Linked DNA regions of Homo sapiens. The protein of the gene in region 2 purifies or fractionates together with the protein of the main gene of each other region. This does not show direct contact. Each region holds a gene or a part of one and is shown on either strand. Other genes may lie near its edges. The genes, in order: AGPAT3, KDELR3 and ALG8.

Region 1 (7,108 bases), on a different chromosome or scaffold from region 2:
TCCAAGGAAACAGAGCCCGTGGGAGTGGGCTCTGAAGGTGGGTGGCCCCATGGGACAGGAGTGCCTGGTGGCCCTGGTTTCCCCTTGGAGACATCTATGCAGACTGGAAACGAAGAAACAGAAGGAGGCACGGAGTCGCTTTCTCTTATATTGTGGATATTTTATCCCTGTCTTTCACAGCAGCAATTTTAATAAACAGATGCCTGCAGCATTTCACCACTACACAAGAGCTACTCGCGCTCGGGCAGGCGCACACCTGCCTGTGTACACAGGTCCTCGCACAGCACGGCAAACGCAGCCAGGCCTTTGGGACACAGGCCTCTGAAGTGTAAGTTAGCAGCCCTCACCCCGACAAGCTTCTAAAGACCAAAAATACCTCTATCCTCCACTACATAAAGCTTGTGAGTAGCAAAACTTGTAAAAATGAAGTGTACAAAAGGAAACATCCGTATAATACATTTGCACCCTGTATACAATGGGTCCCTTTGAAACTGGCCAACAGTCAGCGATGGCAGATTTTCAATCATAGAAAAAGAAGCCAGTGGCTGTCATGCGCACTCAGGTCAATGGTTTGTGTGGGTTCTCCAGAGAGAGAGATTTTCCTTTACAGTTACAGTACTTGCTGGCGATCTTGCTGATTAAAAGGCCAGTTGAATTTCCTGGCATTTAGGCAAGTAACATTTGATTGTCACAACGTACAATTCTGAGACAATAAATACAAGTAGATCAGATGCATTTCTTCATTGTATCAAGTAACTCCAGTTTAATGTAATACAATTTAGTGCATTTCAGTATCTCATTCACAGTTCGACTTCTGTCCAAATACTTGTGCAACAAAAAGTTAAGAAATGGAGACGAACTCCAGGTGACATTGTCATTACACAGCTTCAAATTCTAAGACAACTCAATGATCTTTGAAAAGCGTACGCTGCTGTTGCCTGGGCCGGCGACACCAATGTCCCTGGTAACTTCCTGGGCTCCCTAAAAGTGTTCCCGTCATTCTATTTCCCGAGCAGTTTGTAAGAATGCCACCATTATCCCTGAATTAACAAGCAGCCAGTGGCGAGTGTTCATGATAAAACTGAATTCATGTGTCCACCCCACTCCAGCAGATCAGTGTGACATCTTTTACGCAAAAATTGTTTTTGCATCCTGGCCCCGATAGGCAGGAATACGGAGCCGGATGTCTGCATCCCCCAGGTCGGCCCCACGGCAGGGGTATGGGGCAGAGCCAGGGCGGAGTCAGGGGTGTGGCCGGCCCCATCCCCCGAGGCCCGAGGGGGCTTGCCTTTGGTTTGGGGACTAGCTCAGTAGAGAAAGGGGCAGGCACACGGCCGGGGACGTGCTGTTTCCAGAAAGAAGGCAGGCAGGCTTTTCGGGCTGGCCGTTTGAACCCTGAGCCTAGGTGCAGTGCAAGGGCTAGAAGCACATCGCGCCGTGGAGCACTAGTATTGCACGCCAGGGGCTGCATGCAGTGAGCCACAGGCCAGAGGCCTGCAGCGGGAGTCTACGCATGGGGCTGAACAAGTCAGGTGAAAATCTGCAGGGCTGGAGAGATTATACTTGGCTTGTTGTAGAAGTGTCTCAGGTAGAGACAAAGCATGCAGAAACTTACTCATTCTTCACCCCAAATCTGACCCCAACCGGTAGTCACAACAGGCATGGACAGCCTGGCAACAGCTACTCAATTGCACGTGAGTGAAACACACAGCTGGGTCCAACCACGGCTTTTCCTTCAAATCAACATCAATGCTCAGCAATACCGCAACGAACAGCGTGAGGAAAGATTCTCATGCCACGGTGCGCGAAAGGGAGTCGGGACAGGCAAGGCAGAGAGACTCAAAATTCATCGACAGGACGTGCTTTTTTTTTTTTTTTACACAAGAAAGTGCTGCTTACATTGTTGTTTTGTGTTATTTAGTGATTTGTTCAGCGCTCATCTCTTCCACCAGACTGCGCTTCCTGAGGACAGGGACCTTAAAGCACCTCACATAGGGTGCGCGTCTGGTACACTGTCGCCGAGTACCAGACAACCAGTGTCTCACACGGGGGAAGACGATGAAGACAGCAATGGCATCCTTGGGAAGATGGGCAGGAGACCCCATGACACCTGGCACCTGGGCCTAAGCTGGGAGGCCAGCGGCGTCCCCAGGAGACCACGGCCCAGGCTGGGAGCTTGACCGGCCAGACGCCCGTGGGTGGGCCTGGGCCCTCCCGCCTGGGAGCCTCCAGTGTGGCGCCTGGCTCTGGGTGGGTAACAGGAGCTACAGGCCAGCAATGCCCTTCCTGTCCTCGGCCTGGCTCAAGGACTGGGTGCAGAGGGCATCAGCGATGCCAGGCCTAGAATGTGCCTCACCCCGACAGTGGCCAGCACGGACTGTGGGCTACAGAGTTGCTTCAGCCTGAGCACTCAGCCTGAATTTGGACATAACATCAACTGAATTAAGCTCAGAAGTAGGGTGTAAAGGAAAAAGAAAAAAAAAAGACTGTTCTGGGATTTATGAATTTAATTTAAAAAATGTAAAGGAGCTCTCCTCCCCTTTTCCTTCTGGATGAAAAGCAAAATCCACCCTCCCCCCCCCAAAAAAAAAAAATTCAAACATTCATGGTGTAGTTTTTATTGCTCTTAAAGACTTGGTGTTGAGAAGCACAAGCTAAGCTGTGAGATGGGAAGGAAACCAGATGAGGTGTGACCCCTGCGCCTGGGCCTCCGTCTCCACTCTAACCTAGGGGCTGCCCAGCTCCGCCATGGCTCAGTGCAGAATTTATACATTATATATTAATTTCAAAGGGAGGGAACTTCTATGGGAAACAATAATAATTAAATCATAAAAGATCTAAATTTGCATTTTCCAGGTCACATATGTGCATGGTCGTACCCTTCAGCTTTTTTCCTTAAAGATTTTGCAGGTGTTAGTGAGTCAGTGAATGGCATGGATCTAAACACACATGGAGACGGATGAGCAGCGTGCGGCATGAGGAAGGTGCAGGAGAATCTCTGGGGTGCTCAGCCAGGGGAGCGCATGCCCTGCCCACGGCACAGCTGCCCGAGTGGGCGGGTGGAGGGATGAGATTTCAGATGGAGGGAAGCACATTTCCAAAACAACAGTGTCTGCAAGCGTGTCTCGCATGGTGTCGTTGGTCTCATCTGGTTTCGTTGGTCTGCCCCTTCACCCCTGCGAGGAGCCGTGCTCTGAGCAGGTGTGCACAGGTGGCGTCCCGCACACGCCCTGAGAGCACGGCCCCCACAGACCCGGGGCCCGGCAGCGCCTCCATCATGCAGAACGCTGCCGTCCCCTCCAATCTCCCCAGGACACTTAGGCCCGATGCCTAATTATGTTCTCGGTTTACTTTTCTTCATGCCTCTTTTCTCCATTTGTTTTCCCCTAGAAAACTCAACCTACCTCTATTCAGAACGCTGGTTTCAAGATATCAGAGATAACACCCATTTTGGTTTTTTTACCTTGCTAAAAAGATGAGGGCGCTGTGACTTAGAACAAGCAAGTCGAAAGCCAAATGCAGGTGGGCTGATGGTACCGCAACCAAGTTGAGCGTTCTACCACTGCCATTGCCCCAGGGGCCCCACCTGGCCATGCCGGGGGAGTGGACATGCTGTAGGGAGAAGCATCCCTCGCTCGGCGTGGGCCAGGGGCTCGCTGCAAGGCCAAGGGAGCCAGCATGACCGGCCGAGCGCTGCCCTCTGCTCTGCCTGGACTCTCAGAGACGTCCAGGAGGTAGGGAGCTGGGCGCTCAGGGGTGGCCGGGCCACAGTGACACCGGCCAGGATGGGGGCGGGCCTTCCCCAAGGACACAGTGCGAGGCTGGGGGGTGGGGGGTGCCCCACCTCTAGTTTCCAGCAGGAAGTTGAAAACCACCAAGAGATCAACCAGTAAAAATAAAATCTCTAGAAGTCAATGAGCTCAGTGTTAACAGTCTCCAACCACCTTTAAAAAACAGAGGGTTGACGGTGCCGTCGCTTCTTCTGAAGCATCCTAGAGTCCCACAGGCTGCCCTGTTCTCCCTCCTTGGCTCCTGATCTGTGGGATGGGGGGGCGCGCGGTAGCCCCGAGGGTCCTCCCTCCCCAGCACCCAGTGTGGAGGGACCAGGATCTGACAGCCATGAGAGCGACAAAGGAGCTTTAGGTGCATGGAGAACTCTGCATTTCACTGAGTTCTCAGGGGCCCATCCACTTTAAAAACAGATGTACGTATTTACACACAAGGTCAGATAGGAGCTAGGACAGACAGGGCTCTAGAAAGTGAGGTGGGGCGTTCGCCCTCAGCCAGCCCCAGGACAGGGCAGAGTGAGGGCTCCGACTTCGAGGAATGGACCTGACGTTCGTGCCGGTGTGCTTATCACTACGGGCGCCCTCCACGGGGCCCCCACTGGGAGCCAAGGTGCTGAGCCGAGCGATGCTCCCGGGGGACGGGACCCGGCCGTCCACTCCCAGGAGGACAGCAGAAATTCATTACGAGACAGTTTCGGGGGCGGGGGGTGCAGAAGAGGTGAGGGGCCAGGTTAAGTTCCCAAGATAACTGATTAAAAACCAAAAAATTTGATCTAAGTTTAAGGAGAGAAAGCAGCCAAAGGCTCCCTCTTGGAAGCGGAGTTCTGGAGAGACGGCGTCCGCGGGAGGCCTCTCCGGCCGGACCCACCTCCCACGGGCGCGCGTGGAGATGCTGGGACCCTGCGCTGTGGGAGGCTGAAGACTTCACCTGACAGGCCTTCTGAATTCTTTACTCTTGGCTCAAGTTTTGTTAATATTAGTCACCAGTTAATAAGAAAAATAGTTTCTAATTGTCTTTTCCTGCACTCTGTGTGTTGGTTTTGAGTTAACTGGATACCACCGTCAGGGCCGCGTGTGTTCAGTCACAGCCATTAATTATTCCTTTTTCTTAAACTCTTGGTTTCCGTAGCTGGAGCCTTTTTCTATCTCAGTTACTCCTATCAGTCTGCGAACTCCAAAGGAAGCTTTCAAGACAGGAGAGAGAGAGAAGAGGTGAGACGGATGACTTTGCCTTTTTGCTGTAAAACGTGTTACTGGGGCTTCCTTCCTCTGCCCCAGACCCTGTCCCTCTGCCCCGCACCCAGTGGCCTCTGCTGTCAGTGAGTAGGTGTGGCCCGCGGGGAGACAGCCCTCTCAGACCGTGGTCTGCTCAGGCAGGGGTGAGGGGCACGTCTTCTGACCGGCTGGGTCCGAGGCAGGTGGACACGTGGACCTTGCCCTGCCTGCCCCTCTGGGTCTTTGGCTGGTGGGAGCAGAAGGGCTTCGGGGCATTCTAACAGCTCGGCCTTGCAAACCCAACAGGTGACAGAGGTGGACGAGCAGGACCCTCGGATGTAAGCAGGTCACATCCTGTCCTCTGTGGGTGGCCTCAAGTCATCTCGTAGTCCAATGGGAGAGGCTGGTGGCAGTCACTGCCTCTCAGGACCCCTCCCACCAAGGCCCCTGGCAGGGGCGGCAGGAGCAGGGGAGGAGCTGGCCCAGCTGCTGGGCCTGGGGAGTCGGCTCACGGGGCGATGCACACGGACTGTGTCTCCACGGACAGAGACCCCTCAATTACGGGGTGTGGGTGGGCGCCGGAGCTCACCACAGGGACAGGCTGGGTGTCTGTTCGGCCCCAGGCTAGCTGATGAGTCGTGGTGGGCCTGGCATTGTGCCTGGGGTGGGCACACAGTGGGGAAGTCACTGGGGGTCAATGGGGAGGAGCTGAATGATGATGTCCTGCTTAAACCTCCCGAATGGCCAGCCCAGCCTGACCCCTAAGAGCCCAAAAGCAGACAGGGGGGCTGGGGACCCTCTCGGGGACCCTCTCGTCGGCATCCTCAAGGGCGCCAGCCAGTGGGGCTGCAGTGGGGATGGCGCCAGGTGGCGGCCGTTCGGCTCTCTGGGGAGGCGACCCTCAGCTCAGTGCAAGAATCCAGGCTCTGAGGCCCGCAGGCCGTGGGGGGATCCTGGCTCCAGGGTCCATAACAGCCAGGCCCCTGCCTCCCACAGCCACTGTGATGAGTCACCAGGTCCCGGACCCTGTGGCTGATACTGTGAGGCCCGTCAGAGTGTGAGCTGTTAGCGACAGTGTCCATTACCTGCTCCCACAAACCCCAAGAAAGTCAGGATCAGGAGAGGTGATCCGCTGGCAAAGACGCCCAAGACAAAACTGAAGAGGGGAGACAGGAGAATGGTGGCCCAGGACAGGAAGTTCAGGAGGGTCCACGGCCTCCGGGCAGGCTTAAACTGCTCCCCTGGAAACATGCCCTTCTGATTATATATCTCCTGGAGCGCGTCCTAGAAGAGTCAACAGAGAAAAAGGAAGCGTGAGGCTTCTTTACAAGCTATTATTTCAATGCAGGAGAAGATTGTTGGCAATGAAAAACGACTCAACCTAAAAAAAGCGCCACGTCAATTAAGAGCACAAATCACAGAAGCTGCAGGTGCAGGCGAAGCTGGCTGTACGTTTTTGGAGAATCTGATAGCGTGCATCGAGAGCTCGCAAGCATATCAACCCTTTGACTGAGGAAGTCTCCCAGGAAAATAATCGGTCAAGAAAGCAACGTTGTGAATACCAACACCTGCCTGCCCAGCACTGCCCCGGCCACCCGCCACATCCCACACCTCCCACGAGCCAGAGGCAGTGGGGGTGGCAGGTGTGGCCTGTGTGAGTCCCGCGGCCTGGATGCAAATCCCTGCAAAGCGCACTCTCAGCTGCACGGCCCAAGGAAAGTTCCTTAACCTCGCATACCTCGGTTTCCTAGCCTGGCAAAGGAGGCTAATGAGGAGCTGGGAGGAGAGAGGAGCCTGGCCAGGGCCACCTGCAGAAGGTTCTGCCTCTGGTGGGAATGTCAAAGGCACAGGCTGGCAGGAAATCACCATGCCTGATAGAGCAGACACTCCGCAGCCACTGCCCGTGGGCGGGGCAGCCCGTGGGACTCTAGGATGCTTGGGAAGTAGTGAAGGGCACCATCAACTCTCTCGTTTTTTTTTGTTTTTTTTTTTTTTTTGAGATGGAGTCTCACTCTGTCGCCCAGGCTGGAGTGCAGTGGTACGATCTCGGCTCACTGCAACCTCTGTCTCCCGGGTTTAAGCGATTCTCCTGCCTCAGCCTCCTG
Region 2 (7,108 bases):
GCCTGTAATCCCAGCTACTCATGAGGCTGAGGCAGGAGAATCGCTTGAACCTGGGAGGCGGAGGTTGCAGTGAGCTGAGATTGCACCATTGCACTCCAGCCTGGGCAACAAGAGCAGAACTCTGTCTCAAACAAACAAACAAGCAAAACAAAACTGAAGATCACAAGGGTTCCCAAAGTGCTAAGGAAAATGTGAGTAAAACCCAGGGGACTGGCAGGCTGAGGATGAAGAGAAAAGAGGGGTAGGGGAAGGCCCAAGCGGGTGACCAAGCGTCCCCCACCAGGGCTGCCTCCCAGGCAGTCCTTCGTGGGGCTGAGGGCTTCTCTGTCAAAGTCTGTGTGAGGGCTCAGTGAGATGAACATCAGGCCATCCCAGAGCTGGCCTCAGGTCAGTATGGCCTCCCCCAGTGGGGTTCATTACCCACTGCCAGCCCCACTGTTGCCCTCACCCCGGCTAGTGCACGTGCGCGCGTGCTAGACCCCCCAGAGGGACTCAGGTTCTCACTGAGCACTGTGTATTCCTCAGCTCAGTCCTGCCACTCTGCATGAGGGGCCGTTTGGCAGGTGAGGAATGTGAGACCGAGGCTCGCCCTAAAGCCAGCACATTCTCCAGAATGTTAGGGACTTCAGGGGTGTTCCTTCTTGCTCATTAAAAATGTTCCCCCAGGCTGGGTGCAGTGGCTTACCCATGTAATCCCAGCACTTTGGGAAGCTGAGGCAGGAGGATCACCTGAGCCCAGGAATTTGAGACCAGCTTGGGCAACATGGCAAAATCTTGTCTCTAGAAAAAATATAAAAATTAGCTGGGCATGGTAGCATGTGCCTGTAGTCCCAGCTACTCAGGAGGCTAAGGTAGGGGGGTCATCCGAGCCTGGGAGGTTGAGGCTGCAGTGATCTGTGATTGTGTCACTGCACTCCAGCCTGGGTGACAGAGTGAGACCCTGCCTCACAAAAAAAGAAAAAAAAATGTTCTCCCACCCCAAATGTCTGGAACCAGAGGGATGGTTAGAGAAGGCACAGTTCAGGGGTACAGGGGAACCAGACCCTGAATTAGACAGCACAGTAGTTCCCCCTTATCCACGGAGGATATGTTCCAAGACTGCCAGTGGATGCCTGAAACCACGGGTTAAACCAAACCCTATATATATACTGTTTCTTCCATCTGATAACCAAGACTGCTGTCCGGGCACAGTGGCTTACGCCTGTAATCCCAGCACTTTGGGAGGCCGAAGTGGGCAGTCACTTGAGGTCAGGAGTTCGAGACCAGCCTGGCCAACACGGTGAAAACCCATCTCTACTAAAAACACAAAAATTAGCCGGGCATGATGGTGGGCGCCTGTAATCCCAGCCACCCGGGAGGCTGAGGCAGGAGAATGACTTGAACCCGGGAGGCAGACGTTGCAGTGAGTCGAGATCGCACCACTGCACTCCAGCCTGGGTGACAGAGTGAGACTCTGTCTCAAAAAATAAATAAATAAATAAAAAGTGGCCAAAGGACACTAAGGAGCATGACAACAAAATGCAGCATGGATTCCGGGATGGAATCCAGGAATGGAAAAAGGGCAGCAGTGGGAAAACTGGTGAAATCAGAATAAAGCCTGGAGTTCAGTCAACAGTGCTCTACTGATGTTGATTTCTTTGTTTTGATAAAGTACTGTCACTAAATACGATGTTTTTTTGTTTTGTTTTGTTTTGTTTTTTAAGACAGAGTTTTGCTCTTGTTGCCCAGGCTGGAGTGCAATGGCACGATCTCGGCTCACTGCAACCTCCACCTCCTGGGTTCAAGCGATTCTCCTGCCTCAGCCTCCCAAGTAGCTGGGGTTACAGGCATGAGCCACCACACCTGGCTAATTTTGTATTTTTTAGTGGAGATGGGGTTTCTCCAAGTTGGTCAGGCTTGGTCTCAAACTCCCAACCTCAGGTGATCTGCCCGCCTCGGCCTCCCAAAGTGTTGGATTACAGGCATGAGCCACCGCCCCCGGCCCAAATACGATGTTAACACTAGATATAGCTGGATATGTGGGATTCTCTGTACTGTCTTTACAACTCTGTTGTAAATCTAACATTCTTTCAAAATAAAAAGTTAAAAAAAGAAAGAGACCAAAGTGGGTCAAGAAACAGCATTTAGACTGGGCGCGGTGGCTCACGCCTATAATCCCAACACTGAGAGAATGAGGTAGGAGGATCACTTGGGCCCAGGAGTTTGAGACCAGGCTGGGCGACATAGTGAAACTCTGTCTCTACAAAAATAATAATAATAATAATTAATAATAAAATTTGCCAGTCTGATGGTTTGTGTCTGTAGTTACCAGCTACTCGGGAGGCTGAGATAGGAGAATTGTTTGAGTCCAGGAGATAGAGGCTGCAGTGAGCTATGATTGCACCACTGCACCCCAGCCTGGGAGACAGAGTAAGACCCTTTCTCTAAAAAGAAAAAAATAAAAAAGAAAGAAACATCATGGAGAGTATGAACCCTTTTTTGTCAACTCAGTGCATCCATGTGCATCATATGTGTACACATAGGTGTCATGTGTGTACATGTTCACAAAGATATGGAAGGATGAACACTAGGGGTTTGGAATATTTTTATCTTTGCATCTTTGTATATTGTTTGATTTTTGTTTTGCAAAGAGTAAATATAGGCATAACTTTTGTAACTAGAAAAAAGGCTTTTTGGCTGGGCGTGGTGGGTCATGCCTGTAATCCCAGCACTTTGGGAGGCCAAGGCGGGCAGATCACTTGAAGTCAGAAGTTTGAGACCAGCCATGACCAACCTGGCGAAACTCCGTCTCTACTAAAAATTCAAAAATTAGCCAGGCGTGGTGGCAGGCACCTGTAATCCCAGCTACTTCGGAGGCTGAGGCAGGAGAATCACTTGAACCCAGGAGGCAGAGGTTGTGGTGAGCCGAGATCACGCCACTGCACTCCAGCCTGGGCAACAGAGTGAGACTCCATCTCAAAAAAAGAAAAAAGAAAAAAGAAAAAAGGCTTTTTAAATCTTACAGTTTGAAAAATAAAATAGAATGCTCCCCTGGCCCTGAACCTTCCTCTGCCTGCTCTGGTCTCCCTGGTGAATCAACACCTTGTAAAGTCAGTGAGTTGTTCCTCCTAAGACTGAGCTTTGGGGACTGTCAGTGGAACTCTGGGGGTGGAGTGAAGAGAAGCCTCAACAACCCCCACCAAGCCCGACTCACACCACCCCCGACATCCTCCCCAGAGCAAGAGCCCAGGCAGGCACACGCAGGGGGACTGGGAACTCGGTGTTCGTGTCTTTATTTGGAGACTGGGAGACAGATTACAGTTTAATGAGAGGAACGACGACTCAAGTGATCCGATGGGAAGGGTGAGTTTCCTGGCCCTTAGGGAGCGACAGTGCCCTGGACAGGAGGTCTTTGAGTGGGAGTGGACACTCTAGAGGCCTCCCCAGCTCCAGGCTGTGCACCTCTTGAGGGTGGGCAGGCTTGGGAGTCTGTGTCCTCATTGTCTCCTGTCTACCCTTGGCCACAGGCATCTCTGGGAAGAGCCAGATCCTGTTTGCTCTCGTCTTCACCACCAGGTACCTGGACCTGTTCACCAACTTCATCTCCATCTACAACACAGTAATGAAGGTGAGGGGCTGGGTGATGATGGTTGGGGGAAGCCACCAAGCCCCCACAAACTGTGAGGTAGCCTGCTTGGAAACTCATTCTGTGGAGCCAGGCCGACCTGGGTTTGAATCCTGACTTTGCTGCTTAGTGGCTGCAAGACCTCATCTTGGGCCTCTTTGTATGTCAGTGTCCTCGTGCAAAAATGAGGACAGGGCTGGGCACTGTGGCTCATGCCTGTAATCCCAGCAATTTGGGAGGCCGAGTCGGGCGGATGGAGACCATCCTGGCTAACAAGGTGAAACCCTGTCTCTACTAAAAATACAAAAAATTAGCCGGGCGTGGTGGCTCATGCCTGCAGTCCCAGCTACTCAGGAGGCTGAGGCAGGAGAGTTGCTTGAACTTGGGAGGCGGAGGTTGCAGTGAGCCGAGATCGCGCCACTGCACTCCACCCTGGGTGACAGAGTGAGACTCTGTCTCAAAAAAAAAAAAAAAAAAAAAAAAAAGACAGTACCATTACTTAGCTCAGAGGGTTTGGTTGGGAACATTAAATGAGATAATAAATGTAAATGTAAAAAACCCTGCCATATATTAAACATTCAATAAAGGGTCACACCTGTAATCCCAGCACTTTGGGAGGCCAAGGCGAGAGGACCGCTTGAGCTCAGGAGTCTGAGACCAGCCTGGGCAATGCAGTGAGACTCCGCCTCTACATAAAATTTAAGAAATTTAGCTGGGCGTAGTGGTGCTCATCTGTGGTCCCAGCTACTCAGGAGGCTGAGGTGGGACAATCACCTGATCTTGGTAGATCAAGGCTGCAGTGAGCCATGATCATGCCACTGTACTCCAGTCTGGGCAACAGAGTGAGATCCCGTCTCAAGAAAAAAAAAATTATTTAGGTGATAGAGAAGGATTAGAGAGCTACTTCAGGGAGTGTGGTCAGGGCATCTTCAAAGAGATGACATGTAAGCTGACAGCTTAGTGACAACAAGGAACCAGCCATGTAAAGATCAAAGGACACACCTTCTTTCTGTTTTTTTAAGACGGAGTCTCACTGTTTTCTGTTGCCCAGGCTGGAGTGCAGCAGCGCAATCTCAGCTCACTGCAGCCTCCACCTCCTGGTTTCAAGCCGGGAGCTTGCCTTGTGCCTCAGCCTCCCAAGTAGCTGGGACTACAGGCATGTGCCACCATGTCCAGCTAATTTTTGTATTTTTAGGAGAGACAGGGTTTCTCCATGTTGGCCAGGCTGGTCTCACGCTCCTGACCTCAAGTGGTCCACCCACCTCGACCTCCCAAAGTGCTGGGATTATGGGTGTGAGCCACCATGCCCAGCCAAGATGTAGATTTTAGTTGGACACATTATCTAATAGGAATCTTATTTCTTGTGCAGTGGTGCGATCATGGCTCACTGCCTCAACTTCCCGGGCTGAAGGGGTCCTCCCACCTCAGACTCCTGAGTAGCTGGGACTACAGGCACGCACCACCATGCCTGGCTAATTTTTTTGTATTTTTAATAGAGACAAGATTTCACCATGTTGCCCAGGCTGGTCTCAAACCCCTGGGCTCAAGTGATCTGCCTGTGTCAGTCTCCCGAAGTTCTGGAATTACCATGATCAGCTAGGAGTCTTTTTTTTTTTTGAGACGGAGTCTCGCTCTGTCGCCCAGGCTGGAGTGCAGTGGGGCAATCTCGGCTCACTGCAAGCTCCGCCTCCCGGGTTCACGCCATTCTCCTGCCTCAGCCTCCCGAGTAGCTGGGACTACAGGCGCCTGCCACTGCGCCCAGCTAAGTTTTGTATTTTTAGTAGAGACAGGGTTTCACCTTATTAGCCAGGATGGTCTCGATCTCCTGACCTTGTTATCTGCCCGCCTCGGCCTCCCGAAGTGCTGGGATTACAGGTGTGAGCCATTGCGCCCGGCCAGGAGTCTTCTTTTTTGTTGTTGTTGAAATGGAGTCTTGCACTGTGGCTCAGGCTGGGGTGCAGTGGTGCAATCTCGGCTCACTGCAACCTCTGCCTCCTGGATTCAAGCAATTCTCCTACCTCAGCCTCCAGAGTAGCTGGGATTACAGGCACCCACCACCACGCCCGGCTACTTTTTGTATTTTTTGATAGAGACGGGGTTTCACTATGTTGGCCAGGCTGGTCTCAAACTCCTGACCTCGTGATCTGCCCACCTTGGCCCCCCAAAGTGTTGGAATTACAGGCGTGAGCCACCACACCTGGCCCCCCCTTTTTTTTTTTTTTTTGAGACAGAGTGGAGTGCAGTGGCACGATCTTGGCTCACTGCAGTCTCTGCTCCCGGGTTCAAGTTATTTATTTATTTATTGTTTAGACAGAATCTAGCTCTGTCGCCCAGGGTGGAGTGCAGTGGCGCGATCTCGGCTCATTGCAACCTCCACCTCCCAAGTTCAAGAGATTCTGCCTCAGCCTCCCGAGTAGCTGGGATTACAGATGTGTGCCACCATGCCTGGCTAACTTTTTTTTTTTTTTTTTTGTATTTTTAATAAAGACGGGGTTTCACCATGTTAGCCAGGATGGTCTCCTGACCTCGTGATCTGCCCACCTCGGCCTCCCAAAGTGTTGGGATTACAGGCATTAGCCACCATGCCCAGTCTTTTTTATTTTGAGACAGTCTCCCTCTGTTGCCCAGGCTGGAGTGCAGTGGTGTGATCTCGGCTCATTGCAACCTCCGCCTCCCAGGTTCAAGCGAATTCTCCTGCCTCAGCCTCCTGAGTAGCTGGGATTACAGGTGCACACCACCATGCCTGGCTAATTTTTGTATTTTTAGTAGAGACGGGGTTTCACTATGTTGGCCGGGCTGGTCTCGAACTCCTGACCTCGTGATCCACCCTCCTCGGCCTCCCAAAGTGCTGGGATTACAGGCGAGAGCCACCGTGCCTGGCCTAGGAATCTTATTTCTAAGGAACAAGGGTTCCATGGGGGAATTCTATCTTGCAGGGCTATTGAGAAGATCACATGAGATAACATACAGCACCTAGAAAATATTTAACTAAAGTGAGTTGTCCTTTTCTTCCATATCAGAGACATCCCTTTGGGATTTCAGGCATGTTGTTACTAGTTGGTAGAGTGGAGGTTGCTGTTACTTGTGAGGTGTTGAACTCATTCAGATTTAGTGAATGTGAATCTGAGGACTGGAAATCACCGTCTACTTAAGTTCACACATGTATCAAACATCACCTGCTAGTTCATTTCTCAGCCCAAGTCAGCCTTGGGCATTCCTGGCAGAGACAGCAGACTCAGCCCTTGCCATAGCTGAATGAGGTCTAGGAAGCTCAAAGAGGCTAGTTTCTACATTTATGAAATGAAAAAGTGACCACCTCATTCACTCATTCCAGCATTTGTTTTGTGCCAGGGACTGAGTTAGGAGCTGGGGATTAGGAGGTGGACCTTGCCACGGAGTCCTCTCTTAGAGGGGAGATGGACTTGTACCTAGACATTTACAGAGCATGTGATCACGGGCTAAAATGAGTATGTTCACATGGAGCTATGGCGACAGAATGTGTGC
Region 3 (7,108 bases), on a different chromosome or scaffold from region 2:
TGTTGGGCTGTTTGTTCACATATTTTAATTGAGGTAAAACATTTTTCCTAAAATTTCAGCCTTATGAGGTACATATAGTTTCTATGGCCTTCCAGCCAATAAAACTAAGTATTTATTAATATGGTAAATCTAATTTATTGGCTCAAAAGCATCTATGGACTTCTGTAGTTTGACCTATTAGGTTCATTAATAAATGAACTATTAGTAAACTAATTATGAAGATGTAATAAGTTGTTAGACTGTACATCCCAGAACTTAATTATTAATTTTGATAGTATAATTAATTTCTTTTTTTTTTGAGACAGAGTCTCACTCCGTCATCCAGGCTGGAGTGCAGTGGCGATTCTCCTGCCTCAGCCTCCCAAGTAGCTGGGATTACAGGCGCCTGCCACTGCACCCAGCTAATTGTTTTGCAGTAGTTTTGTTTTTGTTTTTGTTTTTGTTTTTTGAGACGGGAGTCTTGTTCTGTTGCCAGGCTGGAGTGTAGTGGTACGATCTCAGCTCACTGCAACCCCCACCTCCTGGGTTCAAGCGATTCCCCTGCTTCAGCCTCCTGAGTAGCTGGAACTACAGGCATGCACCACCACGCCCGGCTAATTTTTTTTGTATTTTAGTAGAGACAGGGTTTCACCATGTTGTCCAGGATGGTCTCGATCTCCTGACCTCGTGATCCGCCCACCTCGGCCTCCCAAAGTGCTGGGATTATAGGCCTGAGCCACCACACCCGGCCTTTTTTGTAGTTTTTAGTAGAGACAGGGTTTCACCATCTTGGCCAGGCTGGTCTTGAACTCCTGACCTCGTAATCGACTTGCATCAGCCTCCCAAAGTTCTGGGATTACAGGCGTGAGTCACTAGGCCCGGCCAATTTTTTTTTTTTTTTTTTTTTTTGAGACAGTCTCGGTCTGTCACCTAGGCTGGAGTGCAGTGGCGCAATTTCAGCTCACTGCAACCTCTGCCTCCCAGGTTCAAGCGATTCTCCTGCCTCAGCCTCCAGAGTACCTGGGAATACAGGTATGTACCACCACGCCCAGCTAGTTTTTTTTGTATTTTTAGTAGAGATGGGGTTTCACTATGTTGGTCAGGCTGTTCTTGAACTCCTAACCTCAAGTGATCTGCCTGCCTTGGCCTCCCAAAGTGCTGGGATTATAGGCATGAGCCACCATGCCCAGCCAGTAGAATTAATTTTAATGAGTTAAATATATACATCAAGGCTAGGTGCGGTGGCTCAAACCTGTAATCCCAGCACTTTGGGAGGCCAAGGCAGGCAGATCACGAGGTCAGGATTTTGAGACCAGCCTGGCCAACATGGTGAAACCCCGTCTCTATTAAAAATACAAAAATTAGCTGGGCGTGGTGGCAGGCACCTGTAATCCCAGCTACTTGGGAGGTTGAGGCAGGAAAATCGCTTGAACCCAGGAGGTGGAGGTTGCAGTGAGCCGAGATCGCACCACTGCACTCCAGCCTTGGCAACAAAGCGAGACTCCGTCTCAAAAAAACAAAAAATTATATATATATATATATATATATATTTACATATAAAATATATTTATTTACATATAAAAATATATATATACACATCAAATGCCAATTTTTTCTGAGTTGTTGCTTTTATGTTAACTTTTGTTAGACTGTGCACAAAGTGATGAATGATTCGGTTTCATGAAGAATTGTCTAAGATTGGCTGTCTTTCAGAGATGATGCAAATTGTATTCACCTGAACTCTGTTTCTGTAAAGTCTGTTTCAAATGATACTGAAGTTTATCTTTGCCTGTTGTTTCTAGCCCTCTATTTTCTGTCTTTGGTTTAAACCCCAAGGGCCCAGAGGCTTTCTCCGATGTCTAACTCTTTGTGCCTTGAGCTCCTTTATGTTTGGGTGGCATGTTCATGAAAAAGCCATACTTCTAGCAATTCTCCCAATGAGGTAAGCAGATAGCTCAGCCAGTGAGCATTTTGGCATATTTCACAATGATCCTATTTTCTATTTGCTCTGTCCCTTCTTGTCATGTTCACCAGGATAGGCAAAAACAAAGATGTATAGGAACAGATGTCCACTAGGACAGGACAGGGATGCTTAACTTGAGATTCTTGGACCCATGAAGGTATGCAAAAATGCATGTACTATTTCTGTTTCTGCGTTTTTGGAAAGAAGCACTGTAGTGATTAAGTACCATGAAAGCCGGCTTTTAGATCTGATCATTGAGGGACAGTATGTTATAGAAAAAACCTGGGCTGGCCGGGCGCGGTAGCTCACGCCTGTAATCCCAGCACTTAGGGAGGCCAAGGCGGGCAGATCACGAGGTCAGGAGATCGAGACTATCCTGGCTAACATGGTGAAACCCCATCTCTACTAAAAATACAAAAAATTAGCTGGGCATAGTGGCACATGCCTGTAGTCCCAGCTACTCGGGAGGCTGAGGCAGGAGAATTGCTTGAACCCGGGAGGAAGAGGTTGCAGTGAGCCGAGATCGCACCACTGCATTCCATTCTGGGTGACCGAAGGAGACTCTGTCTCAAAAATGAAAAAAAGAAAAAACTTGGGCTTTGGTGTCATCCCGTCTGAAAATAAGGTCCCATGGTTCCTTGTTAAGTGTTGTTAGTCAAAGTAAGGATTTAGTCTATTCTGGAATAATACCTGATACTGTACTACATTTCAGATTTTCCAGAACTGTTTTTGTTTTGCATTCTTTCTTTTGCGCCTCACAATAATCTTTAAGATAATTGGCCAGGCATGGTGGCTCACATCTGCAATCCCAGTACTTTCGGAGGCTGAAGCGGTGGTTCACTTGATGCCAGGAGTTTGAGATCAGCCTGGCCAACATGGCAAAATCCCATCTCTACTAAAAATACAAAAATTAGCCAGGCATGGTGGTGCATGCCTGTAATCCCAGCTACTTGGGAGGCTGAGGCATGAAGATCCTTTGAACCTGGGAGGTGAAGGTTGCAGTGAGCCAAGATGGCGCCACTGCACTCCAGCCTGGGGCAATAGAGTGAGACCCTGTCTCAAAAAAAGAAAAAAAAAAAAGATAGTTAAAATAAATGGGTATTATTCCCTTTTTTTTCCTTTCTTTTTTTTTTTTTTACTTTTTGGTAGAGACAGGGTCTTGCCATGTTGCCTAGGCTGGTCTCAAACTACTGGGCACAAGCAGTCTTCCTACCTCAGCCTCCCAAAGTGCTGGGATTGCAGATGTGAGCCAACAAAACAGGCTTATTCCCTGTCTTAACATCTGAAGAATCTAGGGCTCAAAATGTTTGTGACTTGTCCAAAGTCATACAGGTCGCAAGAATTAGAGTTAGGACCTGAATCTTATGATGTTGAATCTATGATCTTTTCACTATGCCATGCTAAAAAAACCATTTTAAATGTAAGTGTCCAGTTTAGGCATAGTTGAAACCCAATAGATAAATAAATGGTAATAATAGCCTCTTTCTTTATATTTTTCTTGAATCTTGAGAAATCATTTAAGCTCTGAACATATATTAAGCAAATTTGTCAGGCCAGTATGTGGCTTGTCTGGGTTTATTTAGCAGCTTGGAGTTTCCAAATTAAAAAGTAAAGCAAAAACTTTTAATGTCTTTAGTCTGAATTCACACCAAACACCAGCAGGTGAAGGGCATTGTCCAAGAGATGAGCTATAGGGTTGGAAATGAAACTCCAAGTCCTGTTTCCCTGACTGCCACCACTAGGCAGCTCCCAATCCCACAACATTCCTGTCTTTGGAGAAGGCAATTACTCAGGGAAGCAAGATTCTTTTTTTTTTTTTTTTGAGACAGAGTCTCGCTCTGTTGCCCAGGCTGGAGTGCAGTGGCGCGATCTCGGCTCACTGCATCCTCTGCCTCCCAGGTTCAAGCAATTCTCCTGCCTCAGCCTCCTGAGTAGCTGGGATTACAAGCACCCGCCACCATGCCCAGCTAATTTTTGTATTTTTAGCAGAGACAGGGTTTCACCATGTTGGCCAGGCTGCTCTTGAATTCCTGACCTCAGGTGATCCTCCCGCCTCGGCCTCCCAAAGTGCTGGGATTAAAGGCATGAGCCACTGTCCCCGGCCAGAAGCAAGATTCTTTTACGATACCCCTGATTCAGTTTGATACATGCTATTGATTGCTTAAAATTTCCTACTAAAAAATTAATATTCTCAACTAAATTGAACTTGTGCCAAAATCAGCATGTTCTTCTATGCCTCAGCCAGTTCTAATGTAATAGGAGATGCAGTTTATTTAAGCTATTTGCAAGTGTAATAACAGTTGTTGTTTTAAGAAATTATTTTTATTTTTAGCCTTTTGTCTGTGGGAAAAGCAGGAGACGCTTCGATTTTTCTGATTCTGACCACAACAGGACATTATTCCCTCTTTCCTCTGCTCTTCACTGCACCAGGTAAACAGCGTCTTCTGAGAAAAATATATTTGACTATCACAACCTTTTCATCGAGGCCCACAGATTAATACATCTAATTTAAACAACTCTAAAATCTCTTGGATAGAGATCATTCATCCTCTTAAATAAAACCTCCAATTTCCTGTAATTCTCAGCATCTCTAGATGTCACAAAAATGTAAAATTAAACTTAAAAAGTATTATTAGCACTATATAGCTGTGTCAGTGTGCTTATATTACTTTCAGCATCATAAGTCTTTCTGTCATCAGCTAAATTATCTTTTTTTTTCTATTCTTTTAACAGAACTTCCCATTAAAATCTTACTCATGTTACTATTCACCATATATAGTATTTCGTCACTGAAGACTTTATTCAGGTAATCAAAAAAATGTTTAAAATTATACTTACTCTTGTGAAATGTTTACACCTAAGTGGTCAAATAAGCTCTTTAAATTTTATTTTTAAGTTATAACAGTAATATGACAACATTACAAAAAAAATTGGTAAATAGAGGGAGAAATCACTCAATCCCATCACTCAGTCGAGACAACATAGTTTGTGTCTTTAGTTTGGGGGAGTATTTGAGGAGGACTACTTAAATTAAAATCCTATATGAAAACTCAAAAACTGAATGTAAAATATGCTTTATGAATAAAACTATTAAATACAGATAGATATGGAAAAAACTAAAAGATACTATGTACAAATTTTTTTTGTTCGTTTTTTTGAGACGGAGTTTTGCTCTTGTTGCCCAGGCTGGAGGGCAATGGCGTGATCTCGGCTCACCACACCCTCCGCCTACCGGGTTCAAGCTATTCTCCTGCCTCAGCCTCCCAAGTTACTGGGATTACAGGCATGCGCCACCATGCCCAGCTAATTTTTTTTTTTTTGGAGACGGAGTTTCACTCTTGTCGCCCAGGCTGGAGTGCAGTGGCGCGATCTCCACTCACTGCAACTTCCGCCTCCTGGGTTCAAGCGATTCTCCAGCCTCAGCCTCCTGAGTAGCTGAGATTATAGGTATGCATCACTACCACACCTGGCTAATTTTTTATATTTTTAGTAGAGGTGGGGTTTCACCATGTTGGCCAGGCTGCTCTCGAGCTCCTGACGTCAGGTGATCCACTTACCTTGGCCTCCCATAGTGCTGGAAGTACAGGCGTGAGCTGCTGTGCCCGGCTAATTTTGTATTTTTATTAGAGATGGGGTTTCTCTGTGTTGGTCAGGCTGGTCTTGAACTCCCAACCTCAGGTGATCCACCCACCTCGGCCTCCCAAAGTGCTGGGATTACAGGCGTTGAGCCACCGCACCCAACTATGTACAAATTTTACTACAGAATTATAGATGGAAACTTTTTCTCTTCTAAACTGTATGTAATGTTAACTATAATTTTTTTTTTTTTTTTTTGAGACGGAGTTTCACCCTTGTTGCCCAGGCTGGAGTGCAATGGCACGATCTCAGCTAACTGAAACCTCCGCCTCCCAGGTTCAAGCGATTCTCCTGCCTCAGCCTCCCTAGCAGCTAGGATTACAAGCATGCGCCACCACACCCAGCTGATTTTGTATTTTTAGTAGAGATGGGTTTCTCCATGTTGGTCAGGCTGGTCTCAAACTCCTGACCTCAGGTGATCCACCGTCCTTGGCCTCCCAAAGTGCTGGCATTACAGGTGTGAGCCACCATGCCCGGCCAACTGTAATTTTTTAAAGCTTGCTTATGGTTCATAACTGTGTCCATAAAAACTTATATAATTAACTATGTTAAAATGCAGTTATAGCCATGTGACCCAGCAATTCCACCCCTATACCCAAAAGAATGGAAACAGGGACTCAACAGATACTTGTACATCAGTATTCATTGTAGCATTATTCATACTAGCTAAAAGATGGAAACAACCCAATGTCCATCAACAAATACATGATAAAGTGTGATATATACATATAGTGGATTATTCAGCCAAAGAAAAGAATGAAGTTCCAATACATGCTACATGAATGAATCTTGAAAACATGCTAAGTGAAAGAAACGAGAGAATAGAACAAATATCATATCGTTCCACTGATAGGAAATTCTAGAATAAACAAACATAGAGACAGAAAGTAGATTAGAGGTTGAGGGAACAGGGGGATGGGAAGTTATTGTTAATGGTTCCAGAGTTTCTGTTTGGGGTCACGAAAATATTTTGAAGGTGGATAGTGGCGATGGGCGCATATTATTGATCTACTTAATACCATCAAACTGTATACTTAAAAATGGTTAAACAAATAGCAAATTTCATGTTATATATATTTTACCAAAATAAAAAATATTTTAAAAATCTGGTGAAACCTTGTCTCTATAGAAAATACAAAAATTAGCTGGGCATGGTGGCAGGCGCCTGTAATCCCAGCTACTTGGGAGGCTGAGGCAAGAGAATCGCTTGAACCCAGGAGGTGGAGGTTGCAGTAAGCTGAGATTGCACCACTGCACTCCAGTCTGGGTGACAGAGCAACGCTCCATCTCAAAAAGAAAATTTTTTTTAAATCTTCAATTCTATATTGTTTCTCATGTTCTTATTCCAATGTCACAGCACCCAACCCCTTTACCTCTTTCAAATGCAGAACTAATTCTCTCTGAGCAGCTTGAGCTAAATAACAGCATAGGTCAATGGTGGAGTAAATTTAGATTGTTGAGATAATATAACGTATATAATTATCATTTTTTTCTAAATGTGAAACTTATTTTTTATTTTTATTTATTTTT

Evidence for each region.
Region 1: the proteins of KDELR3 (region 2) and AGPAT3 purify together in Homo sapiens (affinity purification with mass spectrometry; 2 studies listed by BioGRID and IntAct, with this or other methods). This does not show direct contact.
Region 3: the proteins of KDELR3 (region 2) and ALG8 purify together in Homo sapiens (affinity purification with mass spectrometry; 2 studies listed by BioGRID and IntAct, with this or other methods). This does not show direct contact.

Annotation. Positions count from the first base shown.
Region 1 is NC_000021.9:43,980,168-43,987,275, reverse strand, and holds part of AGPAT3 (1-acyl-sn-glycerol-3-phosphate acyltransferase gamma), read right to left. Parts: intron 6,288-7,108; coding exon 6,089-6,287; intron 4,973-6,088; coding exon 4,884-4,972; 3' UTR 1-4,883. UniProt on the Homo sapiens protein: Converts 1-acyl-sn-glycerol-3-phosphate (lysophosphatidic acid or LPA) into 1,2-diacyl-sn-glycerol-3-phosphate (phosphatidic acid or PA) by incorporating an acyl moiety at the sn-2 position of the glycerol backbone.
Region 2 is NC_000022.11:38,471,017-38,478,124, forward strand, and holds part of KDELR3 (ER lumen protein-retaining receptor 3), read left to right. Parts: intron 1-3,506; coding exon 3,507-3,607; intron 3,608-7,108.
Region 3 is NC_000011.10:78,101,620-78,108,727, reverse strand, and holds part of ALG8 (dolichyl pyrophosphate Glc1Man9GlcNAc2 alpha-1,3-glucosyltransferase), read left to right. Parts: intron 1-963; coding exon of another isoform or gene 964-1,011; intron 1,012-1,781; coding exon 1,782-1,921; intron 1,922-4,274; coding exon 4,275-4,372; intron 4,373-4,675; coding exon 4,676-4,748; intron 4,749-5,779; coding exon of another isoform or gene 5,780-5,838; exon of another isoform or gene 5,839-5,854; intron 5,855-7,108.